2 linked regions of the Homo sapiens genome follow. The protein of the gene in region 1 interacts with the protein of each later gene in a biochemical or structural test. Each region holds a gene or a part of one and is shown in the gene's direction. Other genes may lie near its edges.

Evidence for each region.
Region 2: the proteins of NOTCH2 (region 1) and JAG2 form a complex in vitro, tested with the Homo sapiens proteins (one study listed by BioGRID).

Annotation. Positions count from the first base shown.
Region 1 is NC_000001.11:119,961,466-119,965,277, reverse strand, and holds part of NOTCH2 (neurogenic locus notch homolog protein 2 isoform 1 preproprotein), read left to right. Parts: intron 1-1,470; coding exon 1,471-1,704; intron 1,705-3,812. UniProt on the Homo sapiens protein: Functions as a receptor for membrane-bound ligands Jagged-1 (JAG1), Jagged-2 (JAG2) and Delta-1 (DLL1) to regulate cell-fate determination.
Region 2 is NC_000014.9:105,158,755-105,162,566, reverse strand, and holds part of JAG2 (protein jagged-2 isoform a precursor), read left to right. Parts: intron 1-3,812. UniProt on the Homo sapiens protein: Putative Notch ligand involved in the mediation of Notch signaling. Involved in limb development.

The DNA of each region.
Region 1 (3,812 bases):
GCCTCCTCCACCACAACAGTGGTCTGGCCCAGATATTTCCATTTGGTATCCATGTCTTTCTGGGACAGATTTTGGCAGCAGTAAGTTTCCAGCTGGCTAGATTGACTCATTTAGGAAAGAGAAGAAATCCAGTTGAAAGCTATTTTTCACTGGGGCTTCTCAGCAGGAGGCCTGGCTCTGTGTTTCTTGAAGCAAGTGACTGAAAGAAGGCCCAGAAATTTAAAGGCTGAATGTGTACAAGTGCAGGGGTATTCTGCATAAAAGACACCAAAATAGGATTGAGAGTCAAGTGTGTAAATGACAGGAGAGAGAGCTCTCACTGGGAAAGTTTGGGTCCTCTTTGCTGACTTCTGCAACTAGAGTCAAAAACGATCTGTGCACAAATATTCTGCATTTCTGGGTTTGTAATCACATTTTGTACTTGGGATTGGATTTCAGTAAGCCAGATGTTCCCTATTACACATTTCCTTTTACACAGGCAAATATTATACAGAAAGGCTAGAAATTATTAGAAGTGAACTTCTTTATTATCTGACTGCTTGAGAAAGAAGTTATTTATGTAATTCAAGACATTAATTTTAGAGAATGGAGTCTTAAAGATTAAAGGCATCATGCATATAATTTATTTCTGATCACAGAAAAGCAAATTTAATTGTGAAAATTAATACAAAAAGTTAATATTTTAATTATTAGACCTACTTAGTTTAGGACAACTCAGATGAGCCACTTTCTTTCTTTTTGCAAATAGTTAATGCTTGTCAGAGAATCCAGATTTTGTCTTCCCCTGGCCAGATTCTTCTTGTAGAGGATAAGTTTCAAAGAGATTAAAAACCTTTAGCTCAGGTTTAAAAGTGGGGGGAGGACTCCTGGAGTCTTTTAGGGAAAGATATAATGTTTGTCTATTTACACCTCGAAGAAAGGAAATCTTACTTGTCTCTTTTTCTTTTAAATTCTCATAACAGGTTCATTCATTTTATTCAACCAGTATTTATTTAAAACTACTATATATGCATACTACTCTCAGAGGAGTTGAGAGAAGTAAAATAAAGCTCTCTTACCTCCAAAGTCAGAATTGGGGACATAAGATACATGAAATCATTAACCTGTATATTGGACTTGGGAAGAAAGAAATACAAAGATAAATATATAAAGGAAAAATATTTTGAGCTGTTATACCTGAAGCCTAGTAAGAAATGAAGGTGCAGTTAAAGCATCTCTGCAATGAAATTATTGATCAGTTGCGAAGGTATTTCAATTCTAAAATTTGATTTGGAAATCTTTATTTTAAGCACCTCTCTCCAGGCATACTTTCTAAATCAATGCAGATCGTCGTTTTCTACTGCTCAAGACCTGCAGTATTAATTGACCACACATCGAATGTGTAGAGTAAATGGATGTAGCTACACTTGTGTTCTGGTGTGGAATATCTGCCTTGGTCTTTGAGAATCCTTGATAAAATTCTTTCCAAAGGTTTCACTGGTGTGTTGTGTGAGGAGAACATTGACAACTGTGACCCCGATCCTTGCCACCATGGTCAGTGTCAGGATGGTATTGATTCCTACACCTGCATCTGCAATCCCGGGTACATGGGCGCCATCTGCAGTGACCAGATTGATGAATGTTACAGCAGCCCTTGCCTGAACGATGGTCGCTGCATTGACCTGGTCAATGGCTACCAGTGCAACTGCCAGCCAGGCACGTCAGGTAAGCCCACTCTGTTTATGTTTGGTATGGGGTTTTCACTGTTTCTCAAATCTGTTTACACAGATGTTTCAGACTGTTGGCATATGCTCAGATACCTAAAAAACAGTCCTGATTCTGAGAAGCACAGCCAAAGCCACAAACATAAATGTCTCAAGGCAAATGGCCCTAGCCAGTGGAGAAGTCAGAGACAATAGCTCTGCCAATCTGATGATTTTGTGTGTGTGTTTGTGTGTGTTTTGTTAAATAGAGGCATACCACTTCAAAAATTAAAATTAATGATTTAAAATTGAAAACCCTCTTTTTTGTGGCTATATTATCTTTTTTTCTTTAAGTTCCACCCCACCCAGATTAATAAATTCAGTCCTTCCTTCCTTCCTTCCTTCCTTCCTTCCTACCTACCTTCCTTCTTCCCTTCTTCCCTTCCTTTAATGTATTTTCTCTTTCACAGTTCAGTCTCTTTATTGTGACATGTTTCTTCAGTCACTTGTCTCTGGTGGGGCCTTAGCCATCTTGGGGGATTCTAAGGAAGAGGAGATACCTTACAACACACCACAGTAACTAAAGTAGAACGCAGAGCTGTCATTTCCTATCCTCGGAGTTCATCATTGTTCTCTGACCTTGGTTGAATGACTCCTTGTTGGTCGTGAGGACATGCTGCTCCTTTCTGGGGGGATGTGGAATTATTTTCTCAGGCAGCAGCATCTCACAGGTTTGGATGGTTCTGTTTTACTTATTAGATGAATGATTATGGTCACAACTATGGTTAGTGGACAGAGATGTACTATGTTCCAGATCAAAGGAAAATGTATTAGTGGAAGATTAACCAATGTGTGCCTTTGTTAGAAGGAAACCTGCCAATATAAAGGAGTGATTTATTGAGAACTCATTCTGGATGTAAGGAAAATGACCTATGTAGAGAGCAGAGGTGGAGAGGGTAGTTAGCTACCCTCATTTTCTTTTACTGTTTCCAAATCCATTTCTTCAAATTTGTCAAAGGCTCTGGTCTTTACCCAAGGCTTCATACATGCCAAGTTTGAAAACAAAGTCCTTTTTGAATTGCTCAAGCATACGAAAAACATCCCATGCCGTCACAGCTGAAAATGCCTTTCCCTCCCCACATTTAGATAACTCACTAAAAGGGCTGAATAGATCTTTGTGAAAACTTCCAAAAGCAATTTGCTTCCGGGCTGTTCCTCAGACATGAGAAATTATAGTAGGAAAAGAAATTTGAGAGATTTACAAGCAATTGACTGGATGTCTTTAGAATCGAGGGGCTTTAGACTTTGCTATCATTCCCATCATAATAAACATACTGGAAACCTGGGTGAGTGGTGGGTTGGCAAGCACTTTGTTTTCTCTGGCATTATATCATTATACCAGGATATATCAGGTGTTTTCTGGGGAGGACAGAGAGGGTATGGTATAAGTAGCTGTCACTGAGAAGGTGAGAAGTCAATATGAGTGATCTGTAGGCAGCATGGAAAGGAAGGCCCGGAATCTGTCAGAACCTGCCAAAGATGTTCCTGCAGTTATTTGGAGAATTAAAGCAAGCAACGGTCAGACAACATTAAAAAAATGTTGATCTGTAATGGGTGGAGAAAGACCTGGCATGTATCAGGGACCTGGGTGGAAAATCCATTAAAAGAGGCATTATGAATAGAGTCTGAAGTTCTAGAGTAAGAATTCCTGTTCCACTTATATGGCCTAAGTTGGTAGTTTGGTGTTTGGATAGGGGAGTGGATGGAAGAAATATTTTACAGTTTGTCAGCTAAAATTGTGGTAGTCACTCACTGGGTACTTAAAGTGAGATATACTACCCAGAGTTACCTTCAGTGCGTTCTCTCATCTGTGCTTTTATGATAGTAAAGTTTTAAGTAAGTTTCTTTGTGTTTCAAGTAACAGACCAACTTGAGCTAGTTTAAGTCATCATTTACAAAAAATAAACAACAACAAAACAAAGAAACAGAAAGAGCTTAGCGAAAGCACCCAGAGCCTCTTATAGATTCCAAGCAATTGAATAATAAGGCTTTGGAGAAAAGAATAGGAAACTGGGCATTTGTAGACCAGAGGTCACACAGTCTGTGTTTCAGTGTTGTAATGAGAGAATC
Region 2 (3,812 bases), on another chromosome or scaffold:
TGGGTCTTGGAGTATGCTGGGCCATGCAGTGCCCTGGGCTGTGGGATACTCTGGGCTTTGGGGTGCCCTGGACCTGGGGTACCCTGGGCTTTGAGGTGCCCTGGCCTGGGGTGGAACATCTATTGTCTTGTCTGCCTGTCCTCTGGCTTGTGCCACTGCTGTTGCCCCTGCCTGGGGACAGGAGGAGGGGTTTAGACTTAGCCTTGAGGGTTCGGGCTGGGGAGGAGGCAATCAGATGGTGGGAGATGAAGTTGGGCTGCGGGTCTGCTTGTGCGGTGGGGGTGGGTCAGGCCGGGCTTGTAGGGAGAGGCTTAGCTGGGCCTGCAGGGGTGAAGCCCTTCCCCCTTGGCCTCCAGAGACTGGGCAGGGGCATAGCCCTGCTAGGCTGGCCTTGAGGGAGGGCCTGGGTTCCTCTCCCTGCTTGCCGGGGAACCTGGGCAGGTGATGGGTCTCTCACCTGTCCCCAGACCCCCAGCCCACACATCGCCTATTGCCCCTGCCAGCGCCAGGCCCACATCCCCACATGTCCCAGCCCCGTTCCTAGAAGGGCAACATGCCCGCCAACCCCCGCCCAATCCAGGCCCTATAGTCCCTCCTGTGTTCTAGGGGTTTGGTGTTGACAAAACCCTGTCCCAGATCGTGGCCCGCCAGGCAGGAAGGACAGGGGTGAGAGGTTGCTATTCGCAGAGGAGGCAACTGAGTCCTGGAAGGACAGGGGTGAGAGGTTGCTATTCGCAGAGGAGGCAACTGAGTCCTGGAAGGACAGGGATGAGAGGTTGCTATTCGCAGAGGAGGCAACTGAGTCCTGGAAGGACGGGGGTGAGAGGTTGTTATTCACAGAAGAGGCAAATAAGTCCTGGAGGCTGGCCCCTAGGGAAGAAGGGGAGCTGGGAGAGCTGGCAGGTGGGGTGAGGCAGGTACCGCCCCGTCAGCCAGCTCAGGTTCACTCTGGATGACTTCCTGCCATCCAGGTGTAGGGACCCCAGCTGGCGGGCGGTGAGGCCCTCTCGGCGGGCGGGCAGGCACACGTCCCTGCGGGAGCAGGTAACCGGAGCCCTGGGCTCAGGCGAAGGTGGCAGTAATCTTACCTGAGTGGCTGGCATGAGGTTTCCTGGGAGTCGAGAGGAACTCCCTGCTGGCCCTGAAGCCCAGGTGTGGCTGTGCCGGGAGACCGGGTGGCCTGGCTTTTCTCTGCCTGCCCCGTGGCCAGAGCTGCTCTCAGACCCATGCTGGCCCCATCCTCTGACCTCACTATTGCTGCTTCCTGGTCCTGCTGGTTCCTGTCCAGCGGCTACAGTGACTGTTAAAGCCTGGTGGGTCCCAGTCCTCACTCAGACCCCCAACAACAGACCTCACTCAGACCCCCAACAACAGACCTCACTCAGACCCCCAACAACAGACCTCACTCAGACCCCCAACAGACCTCACTCAGACCCCCAACAGACCTCACTCGGACCCCCAACACCCGAACAGACCTCACTCAGACCCGCAACAGTCACCCACTTCGCTTAGCCTCAGGAAGGAAGTCCGTGGTGGGGTCTGGATCTGTGGTATGACCCCACTGTCCCCGTGGGCTATGCGTTCTCAGCCCCTGGGCCTTCTTGTGGGCTCTGCCATGCAGCTCCTTCACTTCCTCATGCCCTGCAGCCTCAATCTCAATGCCACCTGTTCAAAGCCTGGCCTGGCCTTTTTTTTTTTTTTTTGAGATGGAGTTTTGCCCTCGTTGCCCAGGCTGGAGTGCAATGGTGCGATCTCGGCTCGCTGCAACCTCGGCCTCCTGGGTTCAGGTGATTCTCCTGCCTCAGCCTCCAGAGTAGCTGGGACTACAGACACCTGCCACCATGGCTGGCTAATTTTTATATTTTTAGTAGAGATGAGGATTAACCGTGTTGACCAGACTAGTCTCGAACTCCTGACCTCAGGTGATCTGCCTGCCTCAGCCTCTTAAAGTGTTGGGATTACAGGCGTGAGCCACTGTGACCCGTTGGCCTGGCCTTATTGGAACAACAGCCCCTGCCCCCTGTTGCTTTCCCCGAGCCCCGCTGGCTATAGGTTGCCGTCCTTGGTGGCAGAGGCATGCCTGCTGTACACTTGATGTGAACGAAGGAAGGAAGGAACGAAGGAAGGAGCCAAATGCCAGACGCCTGGGAAGCGGCTGGGTGCTCCAGGTGTTACCGGGGGTGGGGAAGGGCTTGGCCAGGTGCAGCTGCGAGGGTGGTGCTCCAGGCAGATGGGTTGATAGGCTGGGGTGGGTGGGTGGGGGTGGGCAGGAGCCTTGGGAACCCCAAGGGTGCTCTGAGCTGAGAGGGCGTGGACAGAGTCCTGGTGGGGGTGTGGATGGAGCCCTGGGGGGTGTGGATGGAGCTGACGGGGGTGGTTTGTGGACAGAGCCCTTGGGGGGTGTGGACACAGTCCTGGGGGTGGTGTGGACAGAGTCCTGGGGGGTGTGGATGGAGCCCTGGGGGGGTATGGATGGAGCATGTTGGGGGGTGTGGATGGAGCTCTGGGGGGGTATGGATGGAGCCCTGGGGGGGTGTGGATGGAGCATGTTGGGGGGGGTGGACAGAGCTCTGGGGGGGGTGTGGACGGAGCCCTGTTGGGGGGTGTGGATGGAGCATGTTGGGGTGTGTGGATGGAGCATGTTGGGGGGTGTGGATGGAACTCGGGGGGTGTGGATGGAGCTCTGGGGGGTATGGATGGAGCCCTGGGGGGTGTGGATGGAGCATGTTGGGGGGTGTGGACAGAGCTCTGGGGGGGGGTGTGGACGGAGCATGTTGGGGTGTGTGGATGGAACTCTGGGGGGGTGTGGATGGAGCCCTGGGGGGGTGTGGATGGAGCTCTGGGGGGGTGTGGATGGAGCATGTTGCGGGGTGTGGATGGAGCCCTGGGGAGGTGATGGAGCCTGTTGGGGGGTGTGGATGGAACCCCGTTGGGGGATGTGGATTGAGTTCTTTGGGGGTGTGGATGGAGCTCTGGGGGGTGTAAACAGAGCTCGGCGGGGGGTGTGGACGGAGCCTTGGGAGGCATGTGGATGGAACTCTGGGGATTGTCTGGCGCCTGTAGGCAGAGGTTTGCGGGCCCTGGTGACCTCAGGGAGCCCTGGAGATGGGCGGGGACTGGGCCCCGTGGCCTGGCGGGGCCATGGCGGATGTGGGAAAACGGGTTTAAGGGGAGCTTAAGAGGTGGGATTGAGGGTCTGTTGTCAGCTCGACGTGGCTAGGGAGGGTTCTAGGAGCGGGTTGGGGATGGCCCCCCACTTCCATCCTGTGCTCCTACCTGGGTGAGCCTCCTCGGGCCGTCCCCGGGTGTTCTGCAGGCAGGGGCTCGGGGGCGGGGCCGGGGTTGCCCAGCTGTGAGTGAGGCCCAGGGTCAGCAGTCATGTTGGGCCCTAGTTGTCTGTATTTGAGGGACAGTCGGAGGTGTGGGGCGGGGGACTGGGTGGGGGTCCTGGAGGCTGGGCTGGGTGTGGCTGGTAGCACGTTGGTTAGGGGAGGGGCTGGACGTGGGAGTGCAGTCTTCTGAGACATCTTGGGAGGCCAGGCCTGTCCTTAGCTGGATGAGGCCGAGGCACTGGGACGTGCGTGGGGTGGGCGGCGGGTGAGGACCAGGGAAGGGCTGGCAGGCGTGGGGTTGGGCCTTGCTGGGGAAGTGTGGTTTTCCCCAGCTTAGCCAGGCCTTGGGGCTGGTTGGATGGGGTGTGCTGAGGGATGGAGTGAGCCTGGCCTGCCTGGACACTGCCCAACGCAGCATCCCCCCGGGGTGGGAAGCCAGCAGGCCCTGAGGTGACTCAGCCCCAGCCCCCTCCTCTGGGC